Linked DNA regions of Homo sapiens. The protein of the gene in region 2 purifies or fractionates together with the protein of the main gene of each other region. This does not show direct contact. Each region holds a gene or a part of one and is shown on either strand. Other genes may lie near its edges. The genes, in order: PEX19, CA14, EXOC7, SAAL1, LTN1, KIF14 and SLC38A7.

Region 1 (3,990 bases), about 10 Mb from region 2:
AAAGCCACGTCAGCTTAAAGAAAAATAATTTAGAAAACATAACAATATATTACTAACATTAATAACAATAATGTAAAAGGTTAAAATATAATACCACTTGAAGGGCTTTCTACATTGAAATACTCAAGGGAACATGAGGAAAGATGGCCATCCAGTCTCCTTTGCCAACTGAGGTGCAGACTGAGTTGTGGAAGGTGGGTGTTGATGGAACCCAGCATTACAATATTGTGTAGAACTAGTCTCCTAATATACCTCACTCTGCAACTTACGGAAGCTGAGGAAGATCAGAAAAAGACCACACTCCTCACTCAGAATATTTATTATATTCTGCCCCATGGGGCCTTGCAGGAAAAGGGACCCAAGCTATACCCCTACTCCTTTTCCAAGCTACTTTCCTGAACCAAGGGACAGGATTCTAAGAGAATCATGTATCTCAAATAAGCCAGAATGTATCTGGGGAAGAATAGCCATTAATTTCCTAGACCTGACACTGGGTTTATTTGTGTCTGCCAGGAAGACGGGGAGTCAGTGAGAATCGTAAATGGACTAGATGAGGGGAAATAGGATGGGCCCTTCTTTATCACAGCTTGAGCTCAAAAAGGTTGGGATAAACAGGTGTTTAAAAAAGAGAGGAGGTAAAAGGGAGGATGGGCAGGGGATAGAGGAAGGTCAGGGGCTGGGTTCACCCATATCACACAGCATTGTAGGAAGAAGCAGGGTAACCATTTGAGTTCTCAGCCTGGAACAGGGAGGTGAGGGCTCAGCACCTAGAGAGAGGAGAATCCTAAGGCCTCTCTTTCAACTCTATTGTGATTAGATGCAAAAGCCCTTTCCCTTTAGAGAATTCAGAATGGTCTGTCTGAAGGCAAGAGAGCATAGTGACAGACCTGTAGCCCCAGCCCAGGCTGTTTCTCCCCATTCTCAAAGGCTCTGCCAGGAGAACTATAGAAATACAGAGTCCCAGGTCTCTGCCCCTCCTCCCCAGATCCAAGAGAGGGAGTAGAGACAAGGCACAAAGACCCTGGACGTAAAGGTGAACATCAGTGTGGCCACATATAACATTATTTTGAGAAAGGAAAGAAAGTGCATGCCCCAAAAGGGATGCCTTCCTTCACCTTGCAGGTAGCTGGAACTTTGATAGTGGCAGAAACCACAATGGAGTAGGGTTCACAGAAATGGCCTGTGAAACAGACCCTATTCCTAGAGAGACAGAGGAAAAACCTCAGCTGGTATGGCACAATCTTGAATGGGATGACAGAGGGCAGCGGGCAGACTTCTCCCGCAGGTGACACTCCTGCCTCAGGTCCCAATGGTTCTGCTGACTCCAGATGTTCCCCATAGCTGGGACTCAGAGAGGAAAACGTGTTGTGTTTCACATGATCAGACACTGTTCACCACTGGCACCTGGTGGGCCCGAAAGATTGAGGGCATCCAGGTCAAAGTTGAGGCCAGGAGGCTGGGGAAGAGATGAAGGGACTCAGATAGTTGCTCATTTTTTAGGACAGACGTGAAGATCCATCCCCAGTAGCCACAATTTTCACCTTAGGTGGAATCCTGAGAGGTTAAAGAATTCTGGAAATTGGGGACTCAAATTAAAATCTGGAAAAATAAGACATACTCACCATCTCTCCAGCCAGCTCTTTTGGAGGATGGCCTAAATCTTGTAGCTAGAAAATAAGGAAAATGGAACATGAAATAGAGAAAAGCCCAGAAAACAACAGAGGATCCAGAAGAGGAATCTAATGAATGATCTCTCTATTTCTTCTGAGAGAGATCACAAGAGAGGATCCCTCCTCCACCTAGGTCTAGCAGTATTGCATCCTTCCCAGATACTTCCTTCACTGAACACCTAAGTGGACAGCACCAGTGGGCAGAAGGCAAGAGGCCTTACCTGCTGCATAAGATCCAGCACCATCTCAAAACGAGCCTTTTGAGTGGTTTCACTGTCTGTGGGGGTCTCTGCCTCAAACTGCTCACATATTTTGCACATGACGCTGTGCTGCTCCTGATATTTTTCAAACTGCTCTGGAGGTAGAGATTCCCGATGACTCTGCAACCATTCTGGATACTAAGAAAAGAGAGAATGGGTGGAAAAGAATTAAGTGAACAATGGATATGGATGGGTAATCAGAACAATGTGATTAAAATGTGAAAGGGAAAGGGACGTAGAAAAACGAAAAGCTAAATAAGTAAGTTCATCATGAAAAGCGGCACTGACTCCAACCAGATCACCTGGCCATGTTAGCATTTATGGTCACCAGAGATTGGTAAGCTTCTGTAAAGGGCCAGACAGTGAATATTTTAGGCTTCAAGGGCCACATATGGTCTCTATTGTGTTTTTTTTTTCTTTTTTTTCGAGACAGAGTTTTACTCTGTCACCCAGGCTGGAGTGTGATGGTGTGATCACCACTCACTGCAGCCTCGATCTCCCCAGGCTCAAGCAATCCTCCCACCTGAGCCTCCCCAAGTAGCTGGGTCTACAAGTGTGCACCACTGTGACTGGCTAATTTTTTTGTATTTTGTAGAGACAGGGTTTCATCATGTTGCTCAAGCTGGTCTTAAACTCCTGGGCTCAAGCAATCTGTCCACCGTGGCCTCCCAAAGCGCTGGGACTATAGGAGTGAGCCACTACGCTCGGCTATTGCACATTTTCTTTGTAGTTTTTTTCAAATGACCTTAAAAATGTAAAAACCATTATTTGCTAGAGAGTTGGATTTGTCCCACCCAGGTCTTGGCCTGCTGACTCGTGGTCTGTACTATTCATTACACACTTACCCACATTTCCCCATGTCACTGAAAAGCTTCTATTCCTGTATTTTATCTCTCCAGTAAAACTATACACTCTTTAGCCAGGTGTGGTGGCTCACACTTGTAATCCCAGCATTTTGGGAGGCTGAGGTGGGAGGATCACTTGAGCTCAGGAGTTTGAGACCAGCCTGAGCAATATAGTGAGAGCTCAACTCTACAAAAAATTTTGAAAACATTGGCCAAGCATGGTGGCACACACCTGTAGTCCCAGCCACTCAGGAGGCTGAGATGGGAGAAACACTTGAGCCTGGGATGGGGAGGCTGTGGTGAGCCAAGATCGTGCCACTGTGCTCCAACTGGAGCTAGACCCTGTCTCAAAACAAAATGATACAACCACACATATAAGCTCTTTTATGGCAGGGACCATCATTTAAACTACGCTTACACTGTTCACATCACAAAGCCAGTAAGTAAATCCTCAGTTAATTCTTTTTCTTTTTCAGATGGAGTCTTGCTCTGTCACCCAGGCCGGAGTACAGTGGCACAATCTCAGCTCACTGCAACCTCTGCCTCCCAGGTTCAAGTGATTCTCCTGCTGCCTCCTGAGTAGTTGCGATCACAGGCGTGAGCCACTACGCCAGGATAATTTTTGTATTTTTACTACAGACGGGGTTTCACCATGTTGGCCAGGCTGGTCTCGAACTCCTGACCTCAGGTGATCCACCCGCCTCGGCCTCCCAAGGTGCTGGGATTACAGGCATGAGCCACCATGCCCAGCCAAATTCTTGCTGGAGAAATGAAGTCAGAAATGCAAGATTGATCAGACAACAATCCCAGAGTCTTGAACCAGTTTATAGAAAACTAGAACTGAAGGATTTCCTCTTAGACCCCAAACGTTATACCTCTTATACCCCAACATACCGTGTGACAGCTTTATTCTCTCAGAGACACAACTCTCCCCAACCCCCAACTCTCCCTGCCTCAAATAAATAAAGAAGGAAAAAAAGCACACTCGAGTTACTCTTTCTGCAGGCTCTGAGTAGACAAAATAGCCCACATCAGTTGATGTGATGGAAAATGAAGAGAAAAAGCAGAAATGGAAGTTCACAAACCTTTTCTGTGATCTCCTTCAGTGATGGGTACAGCACATCCTTGGAGAGTAGGTTCTGCATAATACTCTGCATGATGGGGAGGATGTTCCCTTCCCCATCCCCTTCGTCCATGCCTAGCCCCTCCATGGCC
Region 2 (3,479 bases):
GAGAAGAAAATGGGTCAGTGGGACTTCAGATCCCCATCCCAGCTGGGAGCAGCACTCTCTGCTGCTGTGCCTGGGAGAATCCCCCGGGGGCACCCTGGGGTGGGGGTTGGTTCCCAGTCCAAGCAAGTCCCAGAAACCCCCTCCCCTTTTAGCCTTTTCTTCCCATTGGCTCCCTAGTTCCTGCCATTGTGTCCCCCTCAGTTTCCCATCTCTTCTGAGCCGTGCAGAATCACCTTGGATGAAAGAAGCAAAGACCATGCGCTGATTGAGAGGCTGAAGGGCTCGGTAGTTCTGTACCAGAAGCTTAGAGGGCTCCTCTTCTGTGGAGAACAATGTCCCCTGAAGCTTTTCCAGCTGAGGAGCAGAAGCGTGGGAGAGGTGTTACTTTGGGGAGTGGGAAGGGGTCTGAAGTTACAACTGTGTCTCACCTCACCTCGTTTCTCCACCACTTACCTGTTCCATTGAAATCTGGGACCTTCTATAAAAAACTGTCCAGAGCACACTCTGGTAGCAAGGGGGAGTTGTGAGCGAGCCATTGTAGCGGAAGTACTGCCCCAGCTGTTTGGGGAGCAGCTCTCTTAGGTTGAAGGGAGGCACTGAGGTCTTCTGATCTGGGGAGAACAGACTGGGACTCATCTTCCTTTCAGTGTGCCCTAGCTTACCTAGATAGGGCTCCCAGAAGCAAAATTCCTTGGCTCTATGTAATTGCTTCATCCCAAGGCTTTTAAGGATAGTTTTTGAAAGTCTAATCTTACTTCCTGCTATAGATTTTTAAGGCTCACCTTTATGCCTGACTTCATGCAAGTGACTCAGAATGTGTTCATAAGCTATATTCTTAGTCTCACCCACCTGGAAGAGAAGGAAAGGGAGAGAGTTTGGAATGAGTCCATGTTTGGAATAAGAAATTTATGTACAGAATAAATGGTCAGGGTGGGCTGCTGCCTGCCATAGGAAGGAGGCCAGCAACAGAAATAGGTTTGAGGGTTGCAGAGGAAGTGGAGAGAAACCTGGAAGGGACTGGGGGCTACTGACCTCAATTAGGATGCCCAGGACAGCCAGGCCCTGAGGCCTCTCAGCAGCCTCACTCAAGCTGTCATAGGAATCAGAGTCATAATGTACAATGTGGAGCTAAAGGAAGGAAGAGGGAATTGAATCATGGAATGTCTGCACCCCCTTCAAGGCCTTGATCCTAGCTGCCACCATCCCCCCGCTGTCCCCGGCAGGCACTAAGTCTGTCCCTCAGAGATTGGCCTTATCCCCCCAGCATGACTTTTCCTAAGGTCCAGATCCTTTCCCCAGGACCACCCATCCCTGTTACTTTGTCTGAGTCCCAGCTCTTTGTTCCCTGGTACCTCTGCAAATGTGGCTTCACTGTTGATCTGGTGTTCTGACCCCCCTGGGGATCCTTTCTGACCCCAGTGCAGGTGGAGCTGGGCAGCTACATATTTTCGGGGAAGTCCACCCAGATACAGGGTAGAGGGCAGAGAGAGTTGCACTGTGAGGAAAAGAGCAAACTCGGATTGGTGGAGGCATGTGGATACATTCCCACTCCTGGGTTGCCACCACTTCTTGGGAGACTTGGCCCTCTTCCAGTTTTCTCCCCCAGTAGCACCCAGTTCCTCCCATAGGCCAGTGCTTTTCTAGCATATCTTCCTTTTTCTTGGTGAAGACCAAGTCAGTGCAATGATACCTACCTACTGAGCTTGGTTATAAACATTTCGATTCCCGCTTTGGCTACAGGATCCTGATCCCCATTCTCATATCTCCAAATTCATGGACAAAGGTTTTTGAGAATTCGTAGGTTAGGAAAATGCTGCTTTCCTCTGACTCCTGAGGTTATTTGTTTGTTTATTTATGTCAGATGGGTAATGTGCCAACATCTTGACAAGATTTGAGGGCGGCACATCTTACGCATGCTCAGGAACACCCCATCATCATGCCCATGAACTACAAAAGGATCTGACTCCTAAGATCTGAGCTGGAGCCTACAACTCCTTGGAGCCTGTGCTTTTACCTGTGTGGCCATTGTTGTGCAGGTCCAAAGGCTCGGTGCCAGGCTGGTCATATCCGTGGGGCTGCAGAGCAGGCAAATCAGGGTCAAATGTCACACTGTCTGTCTGAATATCGATGGGCGACTGGGCATTGTTTCCACACTCAGGGTAAGAGGCTGGCCAATGGTCCTGACCATGTGGGCCTGGTGGGGGTTACCAAAGACATTGGTCCTGTCCTCCAGCTCTAGCTACCCTTCAACAGCACCCCCTCCCTTTGACCCTTCCCCTAACCAAGCCATACATCTGTGTGGAGGTAGAAATGGACTTCCCTCCACCCAGGTTAAGACCCCAGTTGTATAGGGATGGGTGAGGTAGGAGTCCTGTTGAGTCTCATGCTGCAGTTCCCCTTCCCTACCCAGAGGCAGTGATGATTCCCCAACTATCCTGATGAATGGGGAGTGGTAGCTCTTTTACTTACCTGTATTTTGAGGACAAGAAAGCTGAATGAGGGCAGAGGGGATGCATAGAAAACCTGAATACCCTGAGAGATGGGATTAGAGAGTAGGAGTAGAAAAATGGGAGAAATAAAATGATCCTAGATAGGCCAGGCACAGTGGCTCATGCCTGTAATCCCAGCACTTTGGGAGGCCGAGGCAGGTGGATCGCTTGAGGTCAGGAGTTCGAGACCAGCCTGGCCAACATGGTGAAACCCCATCTCTACTAAAAATGCAAAAATTAGCCAGACGTGGTGGTGGGCACCTGTAATCCCAGCTACTCGAGAAGCTGAGGCAGGAGAATCACTTAAACCCAGGAGGTGGAGTTTGCAGTGAGCCCAGATTGCGCCACTGCACTCCAGCCTGGGTGACAGAGCAAGACTCTGTGTCAAAAAAAAAAAAAAAAAAAAAAATAACCTAGAGAGATACGGTCTCCTGGAGGCCCCTATCAAGTGGCCTTGGGATTCAGATATCCTGACTTCTCATCATTCACTTCTTGCTCTCACACTGACCGTTTATCATGAACTTGAGTTTGGTTAAGTCATTAATCAGTAGTTCATAGGAACTGAGTTCCACCTCCCCCAGGGTCAGAAACTATCCTGCCAGCCTCTTCCTCACCCCTGACCTCCAGCTCTGTCCCAATTTCAGATGCAGGTTAGGGGTAGGATGGATTAGGATAGACGGAGCCAGAAGGAGACCTGGCAGCTAAGCTCAGAGTTCCCACCCAGCTTCCTTTCCACCCCAGCTCCCTCACTCCTACACGATTTACTGAGGACTTAACTAGCTTTTCTGCCAAATCAGGAGGTGTAGGATTTGATGATTAGAGCAGGATCTAGGAGCCATATATGTGAAACTCAAGGCAGGAGGAGATCCAGAAGGGAGGAGCTAGGGTGAGAAGGTAAAGGAAGTCTCCTCCCACCCGCACAGTGTGTCTTCCTGCCAGGTGAGGAGGTCCCAGTGTGAAAGGGTTGTCGGGAGGCCTTGAGATCTGCTC
Region 3 (4,577 bases), on a different chromosome or scaffold from region 2:
TGCCACCTCAAGGAGGCTGGCACTGGGGTCATCCATGTGGGCAAATGCGGGGCCTGTGAAGGAAGTGACCAGCCCAGTCAGGGCTTCTGGAACATCTAAGAGGGTGGTTGGCTGCAGCTTCTGAGGCTGGCTGGCATGGGGTCAAAATCTAAGAGGCTGGTAAGTCCCAGAGAGGAGGGGTTGCCAGCTGCCCCAGGAGGAGGCCAGACCCTATTACTGGAGGCCACGGCGGGGGCGCCTGCAGGCAAAACCGGCGGCAGAACTGCCTGGTCCTATGTGCCAAGGGATGGGCTCCGAGGGGATCAGAGCTCTGAATTGTTGCAGGAGGCGGACGTCAGGGCTCCCTGCCCTCAAGGGAGCCACCTTCCCTCTCTGCCTGCTTTCCGAGGAGCAGCGGCTTCTCCCCTTGGCCCAGGCCTGACAGACAGGCACGCACTCCCATCTGGAGAGAGGCAAGGAGACCTAGGCCCAAAAGAGAGAGAGTGGAGAGAGAGGCGCATAGGCCTGGCCCATCCTCAGAGCAGAGTGGGCCCAGCTGGGCCAGGCAGGAGCAGGCCATCCGGGGACCGCTGCGAAGGCAGTGTCAGCGGCTGCCCTCGGGCTGGGCTGCGGTACTCACCGGCCAGCGGCCCGTGCTTGTCGTTCAAGGCCTCGGACAGGTGCTTAACTCGGAAATCATGCTCGTGACCTGGCGAGATGTCGGCCGCACAAACACAAGCAGCGTTTATCCAGGGGCCAGGCAGGCCGCCCCTTGGGGTACAGGGAAGAAGCCCTTCATCTCCAGGAGGGGGACGTCAGATGGGGATGGGGAAGGGGGCATCGGAGAGGGCCCTGAGCCCCTCCTCTACCTCAAGCCACCTTGGGAACAGCCGTTTCAAGCCTGACTTCAGTGAGCACCCAGGACCGTCCTTAGCTGCTCATTTCCCCGAGCCTGGAGGCCCAGGGAAAGCGGAGAAGGACCAAGGAGGGGCTGAAGAGCTGATGCTTGGCCCCAGGGGGGTTCCCCACCTCGCTGTATTTGGGGAAAGCCCCAGTTTGCCTGTCCTCTGCTGCACACACTCCCCTTTCTAAAGATGGGAAGGCCGGGAGGCCTCGGCCAGCTGGGGCCTGCCACTGCTGGTCTGAGCGTGAAAGGGCTGCCCCAAGACAAATAACTTTTTCTGAGTTCACACAGGAGACAAGGACAGAGACAGGGAAGGGAGGAGGGAAGCCTCAGGGAGGGCAGAGCTGCCATCAGCCAGAGAGGACCAGGCCGAGGGCTGCGAAACTGTCCCTGTGCCCGCTGAAGCCCGAGTGGCATCGGGGACCTGCCGTTCCCACCCTGCTCCCCTCAGGGTTTCTCCCGAGGCCCTCCTGGGGGAGGCTCTGCCCTGCCAAGTGCGTGGACACACAGTGGAGGAGGAAGGGACAGGAGGGGAACACAGGGTGATTACCTTCCAGAGGAATGAGGTTAGAGCCCCCCTTTTTCCCATCTAGACCATGCTGGGAATACTGTTTCAGAAGGTTCTGAGCCTTACGGATCGTCCCTGTCACCAGAGCCACACAGAGAGGAGATAAGAAGACCTAGGAAATGAGTGAGAGAAAACAGCAGCGGCCCTCCACCTGCCCCCCAGGCCCCGCACCCAGCTCCCCAACAGTGAGCAGGCCTTTCCCTGAGACCACCAGAGACGCTGGGGACAAGGATGAAGGAAAGGAGTCATTTCCTTCTCCAAATGGAGCCTTGATTCTACTACCGACCCTCCTTGTTCTGGATTTCAGCTCATTTCTGAAAGGACAGAGGGTAATGAAGATGGACCAAGATCCACCAGGAGAAGTCAAAAATATGGAGTGGCATCATAATCAGAACAGGCGAGGGCTCAGGTCGGAGGAGCCCGTGACAAAGCTCGCATACCCAGAGGGCACAACCAGGGTGGGAGAGCCTGGGGGGCACCCTGAAGCCAGCAGGCCCCCAGCCCAGCCCCAAACTCCAGGCAGAGTTCTCCGAGCATGCTCAGTGTTGGGACGTACGCCAAACAGCAGCCAGCAGGAAGCCACCCTGACTGAACTTCCGGGGGAGCGCTGTGCCCAAGGCGGACGGCTCAGAGACCCAGAGGCAGCCTAGCCCCACACCAGAGTTCCCCAAACCACCAAAGCGACAAGAAAAAATCCAAAAGTCAAGAAGGGGTTAACAGAAGCCACCACACAGAGCGCCTGGAGGGTGTGCACGGAAGGAGAGGGCACATGCTCTTGGCATGGGGGAGAAAAACAATAGTTAGTATCACAAGTGAAAACAATGAGAACAAAATGGCAGCACCCACAGCCGCCTGGGTCAGCCTCCTTTGTGGGAATGAGACATCTCGGGCCAGAAGACGTCGGGAAATCAACTCGCATCTCAAGCAGACAAGTGCAGCTGCCTTGTTAACAAAATGTATAGGGGCAGAAAGGCACCCGGGATGCCTCCCACCCCCACAGTCTATCTGAGCACAGTGAGGCTGCTGTGTCCTGGCAGCTCCCCAGAAAGCTGAGGGAGAAAGGGGCAGTGTCTGGAGGCTCACTGCTTACACCTGCACCGCACCGCACCGCACAACACCACAATTAGCTTGTTTTTTTTTTTTTTTTTTTTTTTGAGACAGTCTCACTCTGTCGCCCAGGCTGGAGTACGGTGGCACGACCTCGGCTCACTGCAACCTCTGCCTCCTGGGTTCAAGTGATTCTCCTGCCTCAGCCTCCCAGGTAGCTGGGATTATAGGCGTGCGTCACCACACCCAACTAATTTTTTTTCTATTTTTAGTAGAGACAGGGTTTCACCATGTTGGCCAGGCTGGTCTCGAACTCCTGACCTCAGGTGATCCGCCCGCCTCGGCCTCCCGAAGTGCTAGGATTACAGGCGTGAGCCACCATACTTGGCCCATAATTAGCTCCTAATAACCAAGGCCTGGCTCACGTCTCCCTTGCTCATGCTCTCCCCTTCAGCGAGTGCGGCTTACTAATGAGTGAATCTGATTCCTGCCCCACAACCCACCAGGAGCAGACACAGACGCAGGTGCACGCCGGCAGGATGTGGGTCGCCGATGTGGATCTAGCAGCCGCCAAACCCGTCAGGCTCCCAATTGCCTCCAGGGATGCTGAGGTCGGTGCTTCACCACCTGGGAGGCCTCCCTGTCCCTCTCCTCAGAAGTGGGAACCGACATCCCCAGAGCCTGACTCCCTAGAGCCTGACATCGGTCCTGAGCCCACCAGTTCCTGACAACTCTGAAACCCCACAGCTGGAGTTTTCCTCTAGTGTCTCTGGCCCAAGGATGGATGTGGTCCACTGTGAGCCACCTGAGATCAGATCCCTCCTGCCTGAAAGGCCAGGTAGCTGCATGGCCAGCGGGCACTCTTAAGGCAGTGCAAATAGGGCTCTGGGGCTTCTGGGGGACCTGTCAGGGAGCCAGGCAGAAGAGGAAGCAAGCACAGACTGGCTGGGGCCCAAGCATCCTAGCAGCCTCATAGAGACAGCCACTCCCCACCACACAGAAGGCACAGAGCTGCTCCATCCACTGTGCAGGCAGCTGCGCCCACAGGCTGGGCTGGCAGTCCCCATTTGCAGCAGGTTTTGGCTGGTGGGCAGGATTTCCACACTGGAGGGAGAAGGCCCCAGGCACCAGCTCCCTAATGCTCTACTCCCTGAGGGCAGCCCCTGCTCTGCCTGTTTCTCCAAACCCTAAACAAAGGCCTGCAGGGGAGCGGGTGCTCTTGTGGAACAGACACCTCACTCTCTGAGGGGCATGAGCAGGCAGGGACTGGAGAAACCAAGGGTGTAAGTAAGCTCTACCCAAAGCTTGTTGTCATAAGCAGGTGCCACAGGCCACAACTAGGGCATGTGCCCACAGCAGCAGCTGGACAGGGGGCCAGCCTGGGTGGGAGCAGCCCCGGCTTCTCCAGCTTTCTTTTTCAGTGCAATCTCAGCAGCCCCACCCCAGAACATCCCAGCACATCATCGAGCTGCGGGCAGCATCTCTCAGTGGCCAGACATAGCCGGGCTTGCCAAGCTGTGGCTGGCAGAGACACTGTTTACCTGGAGCACAGACTATAAGGGATATGATGCCGGGGAGAAAGAACAGACAGATGACGAGATGTTCACCCAGGACAGCAACACCCACCGGCCCCGGCCTCTCATCATGGTGCCCCTTTCCACAAGTCACTCGCTCGCACTGGAGCCCAAAGCCAGTTTAAGTTCTTCCGAGAGGATGCTCTGGGGTTTCTTTCCTTTCTGGATCAACTGGGAAAGTGAAATTCTCCCCATCCAGCTCTCAGCTACACGTCACTTCAGATCACCCTGCCTTTCTGGAAGGTGAAGGTTGGAGCACCTATCCCCTTGCTATCCCAGCATCCTGGCTGCAGTAGTGTGCCTGGCCTTCTGACAGGGCGACGTGTGTGTGAGGGAGGAGGCCTAGGCAGGGGCTCTGCCTCAGGCGGGATTCGCTGAGCACCTGTGTTACTCCCCTACTCCAAAGAAGCTGTGTAACCCCAGGCTCTGCTAGCTGGAAGGAAGAGTCTTGCTCTTGGGGGGCTTCACTGGGTGGGTAGACACTTGCTTTCTGTCCTGTGTACCT
Region 4 (4,577 bases), on a different chromosome or scaffold from region 2:
TACTTACTTACTTGGGAAGGTGTGGAAGGAAAAGTACCACTGTGAATTAACAGATGCAAATACTGAGAGGGGACAGAAGGCACACAAAGGGAGGCACGGAGACAGCATGAGACAGGGAGTAGAAAGGTCTGGCTAAATCAGAAGGGTTACCTGGCTATCCAGATTTTATGCTGGAAAGATGAGTTAGGTTCAGAGAGTAGAGGTCTTAAGCAGCAGGCTGAGTTTAGAATGGTTTTCAAGCAATGGTGGATTTTGTCAGTAAAAAAGAGAAATCAACTGAAAAATGGGAGGCCCAGGCTCTGTTCCTTGTTCTGATACATACTAGCAGCATAACAGTGGTTATGCCTAACTCGTCTCCACAGCTGGTAAATGAAAGTGCTAATTTCCCTGGTCCGGCCTGAATCTAAAATTCTATGATTTTCATAATTTTAAATTATTAAATTATTAATAATTTAATATTTTAAATTATTACAGGCATTTAGCTCACGCTTATAATCCCAGCACTTTGGGAGGCCAAGGTGGGAGGATCACTTGAGGCCAGGAGTTCAAGACCAGCCTGGGCAACATAAGGAGACCTTTGTCTCCACAAAATAAAAATAAAAATTAGCTGGGTGTGGTGGCTTACACCTATACTCCCAGTTACTTGGGAGGCTGAGGTGGGAGGGTCCCTTGAGCCCAGGAGGTCAAGACTGCAGTGAGCCGTGATCACGCCACTGCACTCCAAGCCCTGGAGACATAGTGAGACCCTGTCTCAAAAATAAAATAAAATAAATTTAAATAGCAAATTACCTAGGACCTGGCAATGTTCAATTAACATCTACAGGCTGATTTGTTGATTTATGGTCAGTAAGAAAATCAAAGTGAGAAAAATAAAAGACTATCCAGCACTATCTGTTCTTATTGCTTCAAAGAAGAAGGCTTTAGAAATGTACATACTTACTCTTAATCGAGGACACTTGGACTTGGCCAGTACTCCCATGAATATATCAGGAGCATTAAATTCTTGGAGAAATAAAGCCACGTCCTGAAAAGAAAAATGATTATTAACTTGGATGTTGAATATTCCTCCCTAAACCCTAAAGCTCAGGCAACCATAAAATTCTATATTAAAATTAGAATTTTACGCCAGGCGCAGTGGCTGACACCTGTAATCCTAGCACATTGGGAGGCCAAGGCTGGCAGATTGCCTGAGCTCAGGAGTTCAAGACCAGCTGGGCAACACGGTGAAACCCTGTCTCTACTAAAAATACAAAAAAATTAGCCGGGCATGGCGGCATGCACCTGTAGTCCCAGCTACTCAGGAGGCTGAGGCAGGCGAATCGCTAGAACCCGGGAGGCAGAGGTTGCAGTGAGCTGAGATCACGCCACTGCACTCCAGCCTGGGTGACAGAGCGAGACTCTGTCTCCAAAAAAAATAAAAAAATAAAATAAAATTAGAATTTTAGACACAAGAAAAAAAAAACACAGGCTTAGGAACTGTGTCAACAGACAAAAGTGATGTTAGAGAGTCTTTATGGTAACTAGTCCCAGACAATGGAACAATTTCATAAACAAATCTAAACTACCTACAATACTCCAGAGGATTATCCCACTCTTTTCTGCCCGAATCTATTTACCTTAATAATTTTTCTGCCCACTAGGAATTCTCATTAAACACATTCAAACACATTTGGTGATTACCTATCAGGTATTAAACTAGAAGCGGGGGACAAGGGAAAAAAGCAACACGCTGGGCGCAGTGGTTCACACCTGTAATCCTAACACTTTGGGAGGCTGGTTAGAAGGCCGAGGTGGGTGGATTACTTGAGCCCAGCTTGGGCAAACATAGTGAAAACCCATATCCACAAAAAATACGAAAATTAGCCAGGTGTGGTGGCACATGCCTGCAGTCCCAGCTACTTGGGAGGTTGAGGTGGGAGGATCACTTGAGCCTGGGGAGCTCAAGGTTGCAGTGAGCCATGACTTTGCCACTGTACTCCAGCCTGGGCAACACAGCGAGAAAAAAAGGAAAAAAAAAAAAAAGGTAAAACTTGGCTGGGCGAGGTGGCTCACGCCTGTAATCCTAACACTTTGGGAGGCCAGGACAGGCGGATCACTTGAGCCCAGGAGTTCGAGACCAGCCTAGGCAAACATAGTGAAACGCCATCTCTACAAACAATACAAAAATTAGCTGGGCATGGTGGTGTACCATCTGTAGTCCCACCTACTCAGGAGGCTGAGGTGGAAGGATTGCTTGAACCCGTGAGGCAGAGGGTGCAGTGAGCTGAGATCTCGCCACTGCACTCTAGCCTGGGCGACAGAGTGAGACTTTGTCTCAAACAAAAACAAAATTCCTTCTTGTCCTCCAAGAGCTTAAAACACGGTAGGGGAAAGAAGTCAAGAACTGCTATTGGGTCCTGTCCAAAACCAGAATTTGTGTTTTCAAAATCATCAATAGAATAAAAATTCTGATCACAATGTAACTGTGGCAGCCTCATAACTTCTTCCTACAGAGTCTGCCACAGTGCCTAAAGGGGCGTAACACACAGGTGACATGTGAGTGGACATGTGGCCCCAAATGAGCCAAATCTCACCTAGGAATGTAAGACACAAAAGCTAAGTCAGTTTGCTTGGGGACCTGCAATGTAAAATATATAAATAAAATTAAGTCTCTGGCTGTCCACTGCTTCAGATTTTCACTAAATGTGAGGTGTGTATTTGAGAAGCCTTAACTTAAAATATAAGCTGCATGGCTTATGTGAAAATTAAGGGCCCTGGAACATCTCAAAGAGACAGGCAATTATTCTCCACAGCAAGTGAAACCAGTAACCTGCCAGACAACTGACTGAGAGAGACACACTCTACTTACTAAAGGACCATGGTCAGAGAAAATAGTATTTTCAAAGATACACTCTAAACTGAAAGTCATAATGGCAGATTCTCTTCACTGTAAGTGATCAAGCTGTCCTGTGGGCAATTCTTTGCCACATGCAGAAATTTTTAAATTTAATGGTAATTCCTGGAGTAGCACAAGGGTGGCCTAACAATATCAACACCAACAGTAATAAAATTAACATTCATTGAACAAGTATTAAATGCCAGGCACAGTGAAGTGGCTTGCATGCTATCTCATTTAATTCTCAAAACAACTCTATCAACTAGTTATCATTGTTAGCCCCATTACACTCATAAGCAAACTGAAGTTTAAAAAGTGTAGCAACCTGCCCAAGATTATACAGTCTCAGCAGAGCAAAGCTAGGATTTGAACCCATGAGTCTGATTTGAGCCTATGGTCTTGTTTTTTAAAAGAGATGGGGGTCTTGCTATCCTGTCCATACTGGAGCAGTGGCTATTCACAGATTCACAGGCATTATCATAGCTCACTGCAGCCTCCAACTACTGGGCTCAAGTGATCCTCCTGCCTCAGCCTCCCAAATAGCTGGGAATACAGGCAAGTACCCAGCGAGACTATGTTCTTAACCAGCACAACATGCTACCTCTCAGGTATTCATCTATTCATTCATTACTCCCCAAATATTTTCTGAAAAACCTAATAGGCACTGTTTTAGGTTCTGGGGATACATCAGTGAACAAGCTAAATAAGGGCTCAGTCCCATGGAATTTTCATTCTAAAGAAATGAACAAACAATAAATATAAAACAACTAAACTACACAATTTCTAAATGCTACAAAGAAAATAAGATATGTGCTAGAAACCAAGATAAAGCGGGCTACTTTAGACATGACATTGAAAAGAAGGCATTTCAGAAGGGGTGACATTATGCTTTGATGAGAAGGAATTTAAATCCATCAGAGGACACATGTAACAGAGTGAAGCAATTCTGTGGGAACACCAAAACAAGACAGGTTAATTCTGACTGGAGTGTCTGGGGTGGCATCACAGAGGAGGTGACATTGAAGCCGGGCCATAAACAATGAGAAGGATTTTGCCAGCTGGAAGCCATTCTAAGCAGAGCGGCATGAATAGTGCCCATGGACACGTGAAAGTGCAGGAAGTATCTGGAGGTCTCTGGTCCTCGCACACTGAATTCATGGTTACAGAACGATAGGCGACAAGACTGAGATATAAACTCACCAGACTTTGCGCCAGGGACCTCAATTGTCAGTGGAGAGCTCAGTTCTGAGTGGTGCCTCAAGGGCACCTCTTGTAAGGGAGCAAAAGGAGGCCAAAGAACATGACTTTGCCCTGCACCAATAACCTCCTTCAAACAGTAGCGCTGTTTTCTCAATTTTAAAACTGAGACTTTCACCCTAAGAGTTCATTTAAAACACAGGTTTTATTTCTTTTTAAAAAAATTTGTTTAACCATAATTTATCAATAATTGTAGAATAGAAAGTAGATCTGAACAATACTCTCAACCAACCTGATCTGACATTGAGAATAAGATATTCCACCCAGCAACAGCAGAACACACATGCTTTTTAAGTCAACATGGTAAATATTTCAGGTTTACTTAAAACCATATTCTGGGCTATAAAACAAATCTCAACACATTTAAAAGGATTCAGTGTTCACCAACCACAGCAAGAGAAAGATAACTGAAACATTCCCAAATATTTGAAACTTACCTATAAAC
Region 5 (4,194 bases), on a different chromosome or scaffold from region 2:
CTATGAGCTAAAGCATTATGATCAGTAAGAATACAAGTAACCTAGCAGAAAAATAGGTATAGATTATGGACAAAAATCTGTCAAATAATGACCAATATATGAAATGAAGCTAGGCTTCTTAAGGAAATATAAGTTAAAACAAAGAGCTACTATCTCATAGCTTTCAGACTGCAGAACTTAAAAATTCTGATAAGACTACGTGTTGGTGACAAGATAGGAAAACCAGAATTCTCTTAAACTGCAGCTGGGAGAGCAAACTTGCATATCACTTTGGAGGGCAATTTGAAGACATCTAAAGTGACAGAGTATACACATCCTACTACCTGGAAATCCATTTTTATTTATTTTATATATATATATATATATATATAAAATTTTTTTTTTTTTTTTTTTTTTTTTTTCAGACTGAGTCTTGATTGCTCTGTTGCCCAAGCTGCAGTGCAGTGCCACGATCTGGGCTCACTGCAACCTCCCTAAGTAGCTGGGATTACAGGTGCACACCACCATGCCTGGCTAATTTTTTTTTTACTTCTACTAGAGACGGGGTTTCACCATGTTGGCCAGGCTGGTCTCAAACTCCTGACCTCAGGTGATCCTCCCACCTCGGCCTCCTAAAGTGCTGGGATTACAGGCGTGAGCCACCGTGCCGGGCTGAAATTCCATTTTTAGACATATGTCTAGAATATCTAGCACATCTGCATGAGGTGACATGATCAAGAATGTACACTTGCAGCACTGTTCAAAATGGCAAAAAAATAACAATTTAAACAATCTTTAGTAAGGGAACTGGTAAGTAAACTGATATGACACTAAACAGCATTATGTTGAGTGGAAAATCAGGTTACAAAAGATTACATACATAAAACATCATTAACATAATTTTTGTTAACTATTATACATTGTTTCTGGATAAAAACACATGGTAAAGTATAAAATCTTAAACAGGAAGGAGTCACACCAACTTCAGAATTAGTACGTTAGCTCTAGGGAAAGAAGGAGGAGAATGGCGCCAGGGAGAAGTACAAAAGAGTAACATTTTATTTATTTAAAAATCAGAAGCAAATATGGCAAAATAGTATGTGAAGGGTACAAGGGCATTTATATTATTATTTTTCTGCATATTTGAAATATTTTTAATTAAAAAGAATTTTAATGGGCACATATGGTATAACAATCAAATAATAACATTAATTACTTGCACCACAAAAATGTATCAAATAACAACATATTATTTAAGCCACAGACACTTATGTACATACATTGGAGCATGTGATAAAAGAGTCAAAAATAAATTTTAAAATTTGCAATTTACTTTGGGGTTTTAAATTAATAATTTTGCTAATCTCATGCAATTTTAAAATGTCCTTAAGCTAAAATTTTAAGGGCTGTAATCCTTTTAGTTAGAGTTGTCAACGCTGTACAGATGTGGTATTCTGAATTTCAGTCTTATCTTGTAAAGCTTTTTCTTTAGTATATAAACAGTTAACAAGCTTTACAATTATACTTACAAGTCTTAAAGAAATGTATTAAGAGTCCTAAGTATGAAGAACAGTTATTTAATTATAACTACTTAATTATAGTGTTTCACCAAGAATCTGATGCCCTAATACTAATGTGGAAAAACAATGCTCCATTATTCCATTTTCTTTTCTGCTTGGGGTTTGGGCCAGAAGCCAAGATGTACCAATACTGGAAAGGTTTTAAACAGTCTTATTATAAAACCATTTTTAAAGGAAAAGTAATAACTTTCACGGGGAGTAACACAATCCTTTGGGATTACTATGTCAGAAAGAGACATAGAAAGATAGAGAATATTTTAAGAAAAGGGTTAACGAGGTAGTAAAATTTTGCTATCTGTACTTCACTTACTGACCCTCAGAGGCTCAAGGCTAGAAGACAATAAATATTTTACAGTAAAATGTAGGAGGCAAACAAAACTGGGCAGGACACTGCATCTATAAATATAATTCGAGAGATCTATAACTCACACATAGTACTTCACTCTCAACTATAATCCTCTGACCACATTCATACTATTTCAATAGTCATTTTACCCAGTAGATGGAAAGCAGTAATTTTATTTATCATGAATTGCTTTTTGCCAATTAAACATGTGCAACAGAGATGATTAGCTGGTCTCTCAAGTAACCTAGATATTAGATATGCTATTTCCATGTAATGGAAGACTGCAATAAAATTATTCCAAGTTCTAAAGTTCCACACTTTTATATTTTGGGCACAATTTTTAAGAGTGGCAAAAGGCAGGTTTTCACTTACTCCACTTCAGCCTATTATACTGAATTTTACCTAGTGCTAAAATCCTTAACTTTCATTTCTGAAGGCTGAAAAACATTTGCTCCCCCAAGTCTCTTATTTAGTATAACTTTGGCTGGTAAGAATAGCTCAGTTTGCTTCCAAAATTGAAAGTCTCCTACAACATTTTTAAATGTTTTTTTTTTCCACTGATCTTTAAGTTTCAGTAATACTCATTTATTTCTTCCCTCTCAATAGAAGGATAACTACCACTCCGCTTCATGAATGAAATAATCAAATTACTATTTCTCTCAAATTCTCACCCTCTAGAGACTCGCTCAGAGTGATAAATTCACTGACAAGTTTACAATTCAAATTTCACTAATATATAGAAATAATTCTCCCACAAGCAAAAAGGTCAGCATCAAGAATTTAATTTTCTGAGTTTCATAACCCTTGATAAATGGAGGCACCTTAAAGTTCAGTTTAAACTCTTTTATATAGGATTTCAGAGCATGCCTCCAGATATCTTAAGACAAGCCGTATTAATAGCTTAGTGTCATTTTTATCATTAAAATAATCTACAAATATCAGAATACTAATTTATTGTCATAACTAATAAATAAGGCTTAAAATATCTATAGATGTAAATCAGCTCTCTCAGTTCGTTTTGCTTCACTTGGACTATTCTAAAACACAGATCAACAAACGGAATGGGTTTATCAATAATATAGTTGTGCAATCTTTTCACAAATTCCAATTCTGTAATTTAGGGGTTTTTCATATTTATTTTTAAATATACAAAGAAATTAAACCATTAATAGAAATATTTTCTCTCAAATATGTAATATTCTTTTGTAAAAGAAAGTTTCCAAACATTTACAAAGCAATCTAAAGTTAAGTAAACCTGATTTTAGGATTATTACATTAACCAAAATAATTTTCCAGAGAAGGTCCTATTTAAAAGTAATGCTCACTGGCTTCCCCACATCCACACTTTCAGACGGATCCAAATCCAATGCCTTTGTTTGATGTACTTCAGGGATCCCTTCCAGTGAAAAAAATCTCAGAAAAACGTCTCACGACACAGTGGACAAGTGGATTTGTTGCTAGATGTAAACCATTTGTACTGAAAAAGAAAAGGTTTTAAATACTAAAAGAACTTTTAAAGTTCTCCTCTAACATACATCATAAAGTACACATACATCTATAGTAACCTTCAAATGATAAAGTGAAAAGGGAAGAACAATAAAATTTTTGCTCTTTCTGTTATCTCCAAAATTAACACAAATTGAGTATTACTTCCGATGGCTACACTAAGTTCTTCCTACTTAGGCTCATGCACACAATCACTAAGATATAAGAAATCTCCTGTGAAACAAATGAACAAATGGCAACTTCTTTTTCAGTATGTTTAAAAAGAGCACAGGGCTCTGATGCCAGATGGCTTCCAGTACCAACTCCTGTACTCTCCTTCATGGTCTAGATCTCAGAAGACCTTCTACTTCTTGAGTGGTAAAAGGTCACTGGAAACACCCATTTATTAGAGGGCCTTGATTCTACCAGTCTCAGTAAACTGCTAATTATCTTTGGCAGATTTTAAAAAATCACTTTTTAATATATCTCCCATTAGCTACAATTAAGTTTAACACACATTTTCTCTTCCGAAGTTAGACATTGTGTAGGTGTGTGTGTGTGTGTGTGTGTGTGTGTGTGTGTTTATGTGTATAAAATACATAAAATATAAGTAAGTTAATTTCTCTTTAGACTTACCAAGCAGGCTGAATGGAATTTTTTCTTGCATGTTCTACAGGCTTTTTTGGGAAGGGAATAGTTGAAACCGTGAATGACTGAGAAACAGATCATGCAATCTTCAACACCCTCAAAACGTTTGTCTACGTTATTTTTCCATAAAGCTAAGCCTTCCATAATACTTCCATT
Region 6 (4,829 bases), about 50 Mb from region 2:
CTAATCTTTTTCAGGTTGCTATGGCTTAACACCAACAGCATACCTAGCATTAAGTAAATAATTATTAGAATGAATGAATGAACCTAGCTATCAGATACTAAAACAAACTAAATGGCCATGCTCCACATCTAAAAATCCCATAAACTAATATTGGCTAAAGGAAGAAAGATGGAAAAGCTCAGTCTTGATTATATCATGCAATGACTGTAACTTGCAAAATCCAGAGCACAAACTTACCTGATGAATCATGCACAGGAAGCTGGGCACATAAGCTTTTTTTTAACTGAACCAAACTACTGATACCTTTTCCCCTCACCTGTGATTAATTCTTACTTTCCATATTTAGGGAAAACCTTGAAATGCTTATTGGCACATAGTTAGGCTCTGTAAACTCAAGTATGCTAGTTAGCTAACTAGACAAAACAGCCTTTTGCTAAAACTTTCAGATGGACTGACTCCATGGAGGACACATAGCACATTATACCTTAAGAGCAGTAAGATAATGTTTAGTTATCTTTATTGTCCATTTATTATCATGGAACAAAATGACGGCAGATATATTTTCAGGTATGCCATAAAGGACTGCAATACAATTTGGCACATTGGCAGAATGTTATAAATGGCATATGCCTGCACCAAGTGTGATCTTATATACATAACAAGGGTTTTGTAGCTGGTAATGAAAAGGACAGAAAATAAATTCACTAACAGTCTACTACTTGCCAGCAGTTATTCCCACATTTTTCTCACTAAGTGCTCATAGATAGATAGTCCATGAGGTGGGTATTACTTTTCTTTCTGCAGATGAAGGAATGGGAGTGAAGACAGTAACATGTCTAAGGTCATGTAGTTACTAAGCAGTCCAGCTGGGATTCACACTCCAAACGTGTGAAAAATATGTCAAACTCCAAAGCTCATGCTCTTTACACATACCACATGGTGATAAATCTATTCCAGGCATAATCAACTAAAGAGAGGCAGAACAATGTTAAAAAAAAATAGTTGTTATGGCAATATTAATATTTGTTTAGTGTTTCCTAATTATTAACTTGATTTGCAACACTAGCCTAGCTATTATCAAGGCAGAGCTATTCTGAATGAAGAGTAAAATAAACAAAGAAAATCAGTAAAATAAAAAAGCATAGACCACGAAGCAATTCTAATGCTGAAAAGATTTATTAAAGGCATTCTCTTTATAACATTTCTTGTCAGTGCACATAATTCCAATAGCAAATATTTTTTCACCATTCATTCAAATACAGTATCACAATGTGTTTAGTATAAATATGTATACAAAATTTTATAAAGACACTAAAAAGTTTCTGACCAATTAAGTCATGAGTTTACAAAGCACAAACTGAAGATTAAATACTGAATATTAAGATGAAAACTACTATACAGGTACTTTAGGAAGTTCTTCAAAGAAGTGCACCTCCCGGGAAATCCTCATATGTACATCTACACTCCAGCAAACTGCACAGGCAAAGTGCTACTTGCCAGATTATTGACTAATAAAAACACATATAGAGCTTCAGAAAGAATACAAGGTCAAATGCCAAAAATAAAAAAAGAAATGAAAGCAAATGTGCTACATTGTACCATTTTAAAGAGCTTGAAAACACCACACAAGGTTCACTAATACTGTTCTGACTGCAATGACTGTATTTACTTACAATCTCTTCCTAACAAGGAAACTATCAGATTTATTCATGGTACGAATGGCCAATTTCAACTAGTTATGCCAAATGTACAAGTAGTATCTGTAAATTCGAAAAGGGCAAATGAAAGGATCAGGTTATTTAAATGAATTCTTCTTTTTTTTTCTTCTTTTTTTTTAAATGAATTATTCTTTAGGAACTGCTCAATATCACCCAAGCATAGTTACAAAGTATCTCTTCAAATTATACATACTCTTGAGGTCAAAAACGTCAAACTATTTCCGTAATGTAAGATCCCACAAGTAGAATATTATCTTTATTACTTGATCATAAATAAAGGTTTTTTTTTAAAGCTGTGGAAAATAAGGGTCTTTAATCTTCATCAAATCATATACAAATTATTTCATTATACCTTTAACAAAACAAGCATTATCAAGAGAAGGTCCAGCCTCTGATCTCCTAATCTCATCCAACAGTTTAGTATAATTCTGGCAACATTTTATTAGTTTTAAATAATATTCATACAGCCCCCATTATGAAACACAGATAACAGGGTAAACTACTGTGCCAGCAAGCCATATTATTAATATATAATTATACTATATTTAGGTAGCTACTTATAATTTGGAAAGAAACAGGAAGCTACACCCTTGAACATACTATTCAAAATGGCAACCAGTTAACCCTTTGAGAAAAGAATTTTTGATTAACAATGCAAGTTAAGTTGTCTTAGTTAAACTTGTACAGGCCATTTCACCATAAACATCCCAGCTGTCTGAGGAGAGAGAAGGCATAGGCACAAAGGTAACTGATTGTTCAGGTTTCCACTCATGAGAAAATAACCCTTTATAAACGACTAATGAACCAACTACAGACAGTATACCAATGTTAAACACTTTAAAGATAAAAATATATTTTATTTATTTATTTATTTATTTATTTATTTATTTATTTATTTATTTTGACTAAGTCTCGTTCTGTTGCTCAGACTGGAGTAAAGTGGCATGATCTTGGCTCACTGCAACCTCTGCCTCTCAGGTTCAAGCGATCCTCCTGCCTCAGCCCCCCTAGTAGCTGGGATTACAGGCACGCGCCACCATGCCCAGCAAATTTTTGTATTTTTAGTAGAGACGGGGTTTCGCCATGTTGGCCAGGCCGGTCTCAAACTCCTGACCTTGTGATCTGCCCGCCTCCCAAAGTGCTGGGATTACAGGCGTGAGCCACTGTGTCTGGCCTTTGATAAATAGATATTTTAAAGATAAAAAGACATGGACTTTTTTGAAATATCTGTGCTGATTTCTCTTAAACTCTCCTGCATAAAGAAAATTACCGAGCAAGTGTTCTTTTTCTTTCATGGGTGGTCATAAAAGTGCCTACACATCAGTATTCACACCCACTGAATCCTACTGGGTGTGCATTCCTCTGAGCTCACTGCTGGGGATGAGCCATGGAGCTCATAGACACGCTTTGGTACACCTTTATTCTTACTGCCGTCAATCCCGCTTGATTTAGATTGTTGGTGTTCTTCTTTGGTATTTTGATTATAAGTTTCCCAGGGTTTCAACAAATCAGGGCTTTCTTCAGATTCAAAACAAAAGAGGAGAGACTTAGCTAGAGATTCTAGTTCCTGGTGGACAATGTGAGTTACTCTACTCTCATAGCTGCCAACAGAAGTAGAAGGCACACTGAAGTCACTGTAAAAATCACTGGCCAAGTTGCGAATACTTTCAACACAAGTCTGGAGAAGATTTATATCACTATGGCATCCTATATGCAAGAGAGGAGGGAAAAGTTAATTAGCCTTTTCAGTTTTCATCAGGTATTTATGACTTTTATAGACTCTAGATATCTTTTAAGTCAAAGTGACCCTATCAAAACAATTCCAAACTACTTAAGATTAGTCAACTAAAGTGTTTATTTGCTAGATGAGCACTTGGTTTTTCAGGATCTAATTATTTAGGTAGAAGTACTGATACATACATTAAGTGGGAATTTAATTATAAATACAAGTTCCTATATGGGTAACTAATATCAGTGAAGTAGCATTGGGTAGGCTTCAGTTAATGACTAAAATAATGAAAAGGTTAGAAATAAAAAGGAAAGATGTCAGCCGGGGACTGTGGCTCATGCCTGTAATCCCAGCACTTTGGGAGGCCAAGGTGGGTGAATTGTTTGAGGTCAGGAGTTCGAGACCAGCCTGGCCAACATGGTGAAACCCCATCTCTACTAAAAATACAAAAATTATCCAGGCATGGTGGCATATGCCTGTAATCCCAGCTACTTGGGAGGCTGAGGCAGGAGAATCGCTTGAACCCAGGAGTCGGAGGTTGCAGTGAGCTGAAATCGAGCCACTGCACTCCAGCCTGAGTGACAGAGCGAGACTCCATCTCAAAAAAAAAAAGGAAAGATGTCTAAGGTTCCTTAAAATATAAAATTCTGATTATAAACTCCATTTGGAGAATCATACCTTTCAGTGCAGAAATAATAATTTCAATAGCTTTCTCTAAGCAATGTTTTAACTTTAAGAATTCTGGAGCACGATTAACCATCCTCTTGAAATCTTGGTATTCAAAGTTTTCTTCTTGTACTTGCCTTCTGAAACTTTTCTGTATAAATAAAGTTAATATTTAAAATAATACATTAACAGGCTCAATGGCAGTAAGGCTCAGTCAATATGATTTTAATTGCCAGAATCTTCTCTTTAAGAAAGAGAGTTTAATTTCCTCACCAGTGCTTAACTCTATTTCTATAAGCAAGACCAAAATACAATAGTAATTACTGTTTTCAAAAGAAATCAGAATTTTCAATTAATTTTCAAAGTCTGTCATCCTATTACATGAGAATGGAATAAAGTAACAGTGCCATTTATTATTCAATACTTTAAAAGATACATTTATTTCATTTTTAAGAGCTCAACTTTATAATAGTTCTCATTTATTTAAATAAAAATTTTCAAGCCATAGCAATTACTCTCCTTTTTAACACATTGATCATATACTTAATTTTTCTCTTTACCTGTGACATGGGAATAATCTATCTAATTCAACTGTATTTTAAAATCTTTGAGCACAATGATTATTAAACACAATTTTTTAGCCTATAATGACCCATCCAAGCAAAAGCTGACAGTTATTAAACCAGTAGCAATAAGAAACAGACATATTAATAAAT
Region 7 (4,577 bases), on a different chromosome or scaffold from region 2:
TGAACTACTCATGGATGCAAAAGGACATTTAGAACTGAATCTCTCATGGATGCATCCTTTTTCTATGATGGAGACAGAAAAGGATGGTCTTATCTGAAACCCTGCAAGCCCCGGTCTGCCCTGCCTTGCCTACTCTTGCTCCCCAAGGTGAGGTGGCATGGAGGAGCAGGGTTCCCCAGGAGCCCTTGGGTCTACAGCTGCCCAGGATCATAGCTTCTGTCTGACCCAGGCTGGGGCCTCCAAACCTGGCATATTTCTGGAAACCAATCTCCCTGGGGATGGAGAGGGGCAGGATGAAGAGGAAGGCAGTGAGGCTGATGGTGAACTTGCGGTCTGTGTACCAAGGGCCGCTGGCCCCCTCCGGCTCTTTCGCCATCACAGCTATAACTGCACAGGGAGGAAGGAGGGAATGTCAAGCCAGGCCACCATGGGGTGTGGCCCTCCTGCTCTGCTGGGCCCCAGGACCTCCCTCTGCCTGGAGGGAGGATTCCCAGATGAATGCTGGGCCCAGGTAAGTCCTGGAGAGGTGTTCAGTGCCTTTTCCCTCCACCCCAGGATCCCTGGGGCTGATAAGAAGAGATGGGGTAGGGACTGAGGGAGAAGCTCACTCTTGTCCTGCTGGTCGCCAATGATGATTAGGAAGGCAATGCAGGTGCCAAAGGTGTAGACAGCGATGGCCACCTCACATAGCACACCTGTCAGCTTGCCACACACAGCCCATACCACCTCCTGGTAGGTCCTCTCATTGCTGGCCTGGGAGCAGTAGGCCAGGATGACAAGGCCACTGATGATGAAAACCAGCATACCCTGCAGGCAGAGGCAGAACAAGAGCTTGTGGCAAAGGCCTGGCAGCAGAGGGCACCCTGGGCTCGCCTAGCATTTACTGGGCCAGTGCCCAAAGCAAGCTTGGCAAATCTCACAAAGGCAATTTTAAGAGACTGCTAGAGGATGCCGAGTTGAGATTTTCTTTAAAAACAAAAAGTTTTTTGAAAAATTGCCAACATACAAAAGTAAAGAGAATAGGCTGGATGCGATGGCTCATGCCTGTAATCCCAGCACTTTGGGAGGCTGAGGCAGGAGGATCACTTGAAGTCAGGAGTTTGAGACCAGCCTGGCCAACATGGTAAAACCCCGTCTCTACTAAAAATACAAAAATTAGCTGGGCATGGTGGTGGGTGCCTGTAATGCCAGCGACTTGGGAGGCTGAGGCAGGAGAATCACTTGAAACTGGGAGGCAGAGGCTGCAGTAAGCCGAGATCGGGCCACTGCACTCCAGCCTGGGTGACAAAGCAAGACTCCATCTCAAAGAAAAAAGTAAAGAGAATAGTAAAAAGAACTGGCATGTATCCATCACTCAGCTTCAAAAATGATCAATGCATGGCCAACTTGTTTCATCATTCCCCTTCCCTCCCACTCTGCATTTATTGTGAAGCCAATATAAGCTATCATATCATTTCATCAATAAATATTTCAGTATGTAGTTCTAAAAGATAAGGGCCCTCTTTTTAAACATACCACAAAATCAATGTTACACCTAAAAAATTAGAGATGTAATTGATGTTCAAATTTCTCTGATTGTTGGAAGGCTTCTGAAGCCTCATTTGGGTCACAGGAAAGAATACTAGAATAGATTAGTCATGTCTGCCATGTGTGAGGGAGGGGAGAGCAGTGCGTGTATCACTTACTGGCCATCCCTGACCCGAAGCCTCCCTTTTGAGGCAAAGCGCCCAACTGAACTGCACCTCTGCCCTCCCGGCCAGTGCACTCACCATCTGCAGTGCGATGCCTGCTGCCACGCCCCCCGCAGTGCTGAAGGCTGCTGGGAAGTTGAGTAACCCTGCACCCAGGCACGCGTTGACGACGATGAAGATGGCCCCAAGTGTGGAAGTGGTGCCTCTGTCCAGACCCCCAGGAGAGGCTTCCCACTCACTCTTGGGGGCTGTGTCCACACAGGGACTCTGCAGCAGCCGAGCCCGCTCCCCGGCATCCGTGCTCAAGTCCCACTCGCTGTAGTCATTGTTGATGCTGACCTGGGCCATGGCCCCGAGAGCCTTCTTCCTGCAAGGTCTGTGGGTTCTGCCTTACAACCACATGCCTCAGGGAGCTGAGCAACACCCACCTGTTTGGGGCTGTTAGCTTAGGACTCTTCTCAACCTAGATGGGACAAAGGCAGGCACTACTGTTATCCTAAGATGGGGGAACTAGGGGACAAAAAGGTGTAATAACTTTCCCAAGATCACATGGGTAGGGTCCAAACCCAGGTATGCCTCTGTGCAGACAGTGCACTGGGTGCCAGAGTATGGGGAGACAGACACAGAAACAGATCAGGTGCAAATCATGCTTGCTTCAGGCATACAGACTCAATGGACCAGTTAGATGTCAACATAAAATGGGTACTAACACATCAGCACTCGATAGAGGCCCCGCATCGGGCAGGTGTGTCATGGATATACTTTATCTCATTCAATCCTTAGGATGGTCTTGTGGTCAAAAGGTTCGGAGAGATCCCATCACTGACCCAGGGTCATATATTAGCAAGTTGCATAGCAGGATTTGGATCCAGATCTGTCTGGCTTCCCAGCCTGTTTCCACCCCACAGGGTCCCAAAAGGACCCCTTACCAAGAACTGAGATTCAACATATTACAGTCCAGCACGCCTCCCGGTGGCCTGGAGTCTGAATTCTGTGGCTTTCGAGGCCCTTCGAAATTCAGGCCAATTCTCGACTCTTCTCTCATGTGACAAGCCCCCATGCCTGTCATGTTTGCGTCTTCAGGAAAACAGTGATTCATCCCATGCTTCTAATGCTCCCAACTCCTTTGCCGCCACCCTTTTAGGTCCTATTTCTTCCCCATTTCCTGGGTCACTCACTGAGCTCTTCTTGGAGCCATGTAGGGGCCCAGAACCACTCTAGCTGGTTTCTTCTCAGTACTCTCTCATGTGCTAGCATCTCACTGGCCACTAGGCTTGCTTTCCTGGGCTAGATTACAATGATCAGTGCCAAACATGCAGTGCTGTTTGTCACTATAAACCACTATTGCTGCAGCTATGGAATGCTTTCTCATTCAATCCTCAATGCAGCCCTAAAAGGTAGACATGACAGTCACCATTTTACCAAAGAGGAAGCTGAATCCCAGAGGGGATAACCACTCTCCCCTCAGTCATATGGCGGTCAGTGGTGGAGCTGGGATTCAAACCCAGGCCTGTCTGACCATAGGGCATCCATCTGTTTGTATCTGCCCCACTCCTGGGTCCAAGATGGTACCTTGGGTATGGCAGAACTCAGATAACAGGCTTATCACCTGACTGATTCTCTTTGCTCTCTGGATAAACACAATTGAGATGCAGTTTTTTTTCTTCCAAGAATCTCGAGAGGCTCTGAGGAGCCCAGCCCTGAAAAAGGATCTTCAGTGTTCTCAAGGTTCAGCTCATAGCCTGAGACCCGCAGAGAAATGATGGTCCTAAAGCATCAAGTCCACCCCCAGATCAAGAGCAGCCCTGGGCAGGGCTGTGATCTGGGTCTCCGAGTAGGTTCTGCCGTCAGAATGCTGACTCCTCCGCTGCCTATCTGTGTGACCCTGGGCAAGTCACTTCGCCCCTTTAGGCCTTTACATCATATGTTCCTGTGGGTCGTGTGTTAATATCAGTAAGGGTTTAAGACTCAATAAATGGTCACTGCTGCTGTTATTTCTGCAGATGCCCCTTCCCATGTTGCCCACCACCACCATGCCTGAGACTCTCCAGCCCTAAGCAAGCAGGGAGCAGAACACTGATCAAAACCAGAGCCTGGGCCGGGTGTGGTGGCTCACATCTGTAATTCCAGCACTTTGAGAGGTCGAGGTGGGCAGATCACCTGGGGTCAGGAGTTTGAGACCAGCCTGGCCAACATGGTGAAACCCCATCTCTACTAAAAATACAAAAATTAGCCAGGTGTGGTGGTGCACCCCTGTAATCCCAGCTGTGCAGGAGGCTGAGGCAGGAGAATCGCCCGAAATTAGGAGACAGAGTTTGCAGTGAGCCCAGATCACGCCACTGCACTCCAGTCTGGGCGACAGAGTGAGACTCTATCTCAAAACAAACAAACAAACAAAACTCAAACCACAGCCTGGTGCTATTGGCCAGGTAACAATGGGCACAGAGGCCCTGGGATAGCTAATGGGAGAAAGAGCAGGAAGAAGGCCAGATTTCAAGGGCAGGAACTAAGGGGGCAGGGAGGAGCCAGGGCAGTCTTCCCCAGAGGCTGCTATTAGCTGGTTACCACCCAGGCTGGCGAAATCTGCCAAAGACTCCTTCTCCTAGAGTCTCCTCATTCCTGAGTCCCGATTTCACGGTACTCATACAAAACTCCATTTTAATCTCTACTCCCTCCCTGGTTTAGTCTTTATTTATTTAGAGACAGGGTATCACTCTGTTGCCCAGGCTGGAGTGCAGTGGCGCAATCAGAGCTCACTGCAGCCTCAATCTACCAGGCTCAAGCAATCCTCCCACCTCAACTTCCCGAGTACCTGGGACTACAGGTGTGTGCCACCACAGCCAGCTAACTTTTAAAATTTTTTTTTTTTTTGAGACGGAGTCTTGC

What was found.
Region 1: the proteins of CA14 (region 2) and PEX19 purify together in Homo sapiens (affinity purification with mass spectrometry; 3 studies listed by BioGRID and IntAct, with this or other methods). This does not show direct contact.
Region 3: the proteins of CA14 (region 2) and EXOC7 purify together in Homo sapiens (affinity purification with mass spectrometry; 3 studies listed by BioGRID and IntAct, with this or other methods). This does not show direct contact.
Region 4: the proteins of CA14 (region 2) and SAAL1 purify together in Homo sapiens (affinity purification with mass spectrometry; 3 studies listed by BioGRID and IntAct, with this or other methods). This does not show direct contact.
Region 5: the proteins of CA14 (region 2) and LTN1 purify together in Homo sapiens (affinity purification with mass spectrometry; 3 studies listed by BioGRID and IntAct, with this or other methods). This does not show direct contact.
Region 6: the proteins of CA14 (region 2) and KIF14 purify together in Homo sapiens (affinity purification with mass spectrometry; 3 studies listed by BioGRID and IntAct, with this or other methods). This does not show direct contact.
Region 7: the proteins of CA14 (region 2) and SLC38A7 purify together in Homo sapiens (affinity purification with mass spectrometry; 2 studies listed by BioGRID and IntAct, with this or other methods). This does not show direct contact.

Annotation. Positions count from the first base shown.
Region 1 is NC_000001.11:160,278,179-160,282,168, forward strand, and holds part of PEX19 (peroxisomal biogenesis factor 19), read right to left. Parts: coding exon 3,861-3,990; intron 2,069-3,860; coding exon 1,892-2,068; intron 1,668-1,891; coding exon 1,623-1,667; intron 1,457-1,622; coding exon 1,373-1,456; 3' UTR 1-1,372. UniProt on the Homo sapiens protein: Necessary for early peroxisomal biogenesis. Acts both as a cytosolic chaperone and as an import receptor for peroxisomal membrane proteins (PMPs).
Region 2 is NC_000001.11:150,260,174-150,263,652, reverse strand, and holds part of CA14 (carbonic anhydrase 14 precursor), read right to left. Parts: coding exon of another isoform or gene 3,405-3,479; intron 2,195-3,404; coding exon 2,015-2,194; intron 1,960-2,014; exon of another isoform or gene 1,856-1,959; intron 1,496-1,855; coding exon 1,353-1,495; intron 1,129-1,352; coding exon 1,033-1,128; intron 850-1,032; coding exon 783-849; intron 612-782; coding exon 454-611; intron 355-453; coding exon 234-354; intron 1-233. UniProt on the Homo sapiens protein: Reversible hydration of carbon dioxide.
Region 3 is NC_000017.11:76,089,710-76,094,286, forward strand, and holds part of EXOC7 (exocyst complex component 7), read right to left. Parts: intron 1,527-4,577; coding exon 1,434-1,526; intron 773-1,433; coding exon of another isoform or gene 620-772; intron 463-619; coding exon of another isoform or gene 335-462; exon of another isoform or gene 33-334; coding exon of another isoform or gene 1-32. UniProt on the Homo sapiens protein: Component of the exocyst complex involved in the docking of exocytic vesicles with fusion sites on the plasma membrane.
Region 4 is NC_000011.10:18,095,831-18,100,407, forward strand, and holds part of SAAL1 (protein SAAL1), read right to left. Parts: intron 1,025-4,577; coding exon 941-1,024; intron 1-940. UniProt on the Homo sapiens protein: Plays a role in promoting the proliferation of synovial fibroblasts in response to pro-inflammatory stimuli.
Region 5 is NC_000021.9:28,927,129-28,931,322, forward strand, and holds the end of LTN1 (E3 ubiquitin-protein ligase listerin), read right to left. Parts: coding exon 4,027-4,194; intron 3,383-4,026; coding exon 3,320-3,382; 3' UTR 1,016-3,319; downstream 1-1,015.
Region 6 is NC_000001.11:200,550,343-200,555,171, forward strand, and holds the end of KIF14 (kinesin-like protein KIF14), read right to left. Parts: intron 4,265-4,829; coding exon 4,126-4,264; intron 3,426-4,125; coding exon 3,046-3,425; 3' UTR 1,158-3,045; downstream 1-1,157. UniProt on the Homo sapiens protein: Microtubule motor protein that binds to microtubules with high affinity through each tubulin heterodimer and has an ATPase activity. Plays a role in many processes like cell division, cytokinesis and also in cell proliferation and apoptosis.
Region 7 is NC_000016.10:58,678,088-58,682,664, forward strand, and holds part of SLC38A7 (sodium-coupled neutral amino acid transporter 7), read right to left. Parts: intron 2,155-4,577; 5' UTR 2,040-2,154; coding exon 1,770-2,039; intron 808-1,769; coding exon 609-807; intron 388-608; coding exon 246-387; intron 1-245. UniProt on the Homo sapiens protein: Symporter that selectively cotransports sodium ions and amino acids, such as L-glutamine and L-asparagine from the lysosome into the cytoplasm and may participates in mTORC1 activation. The transport activity requires an acidic lysosomal lumen.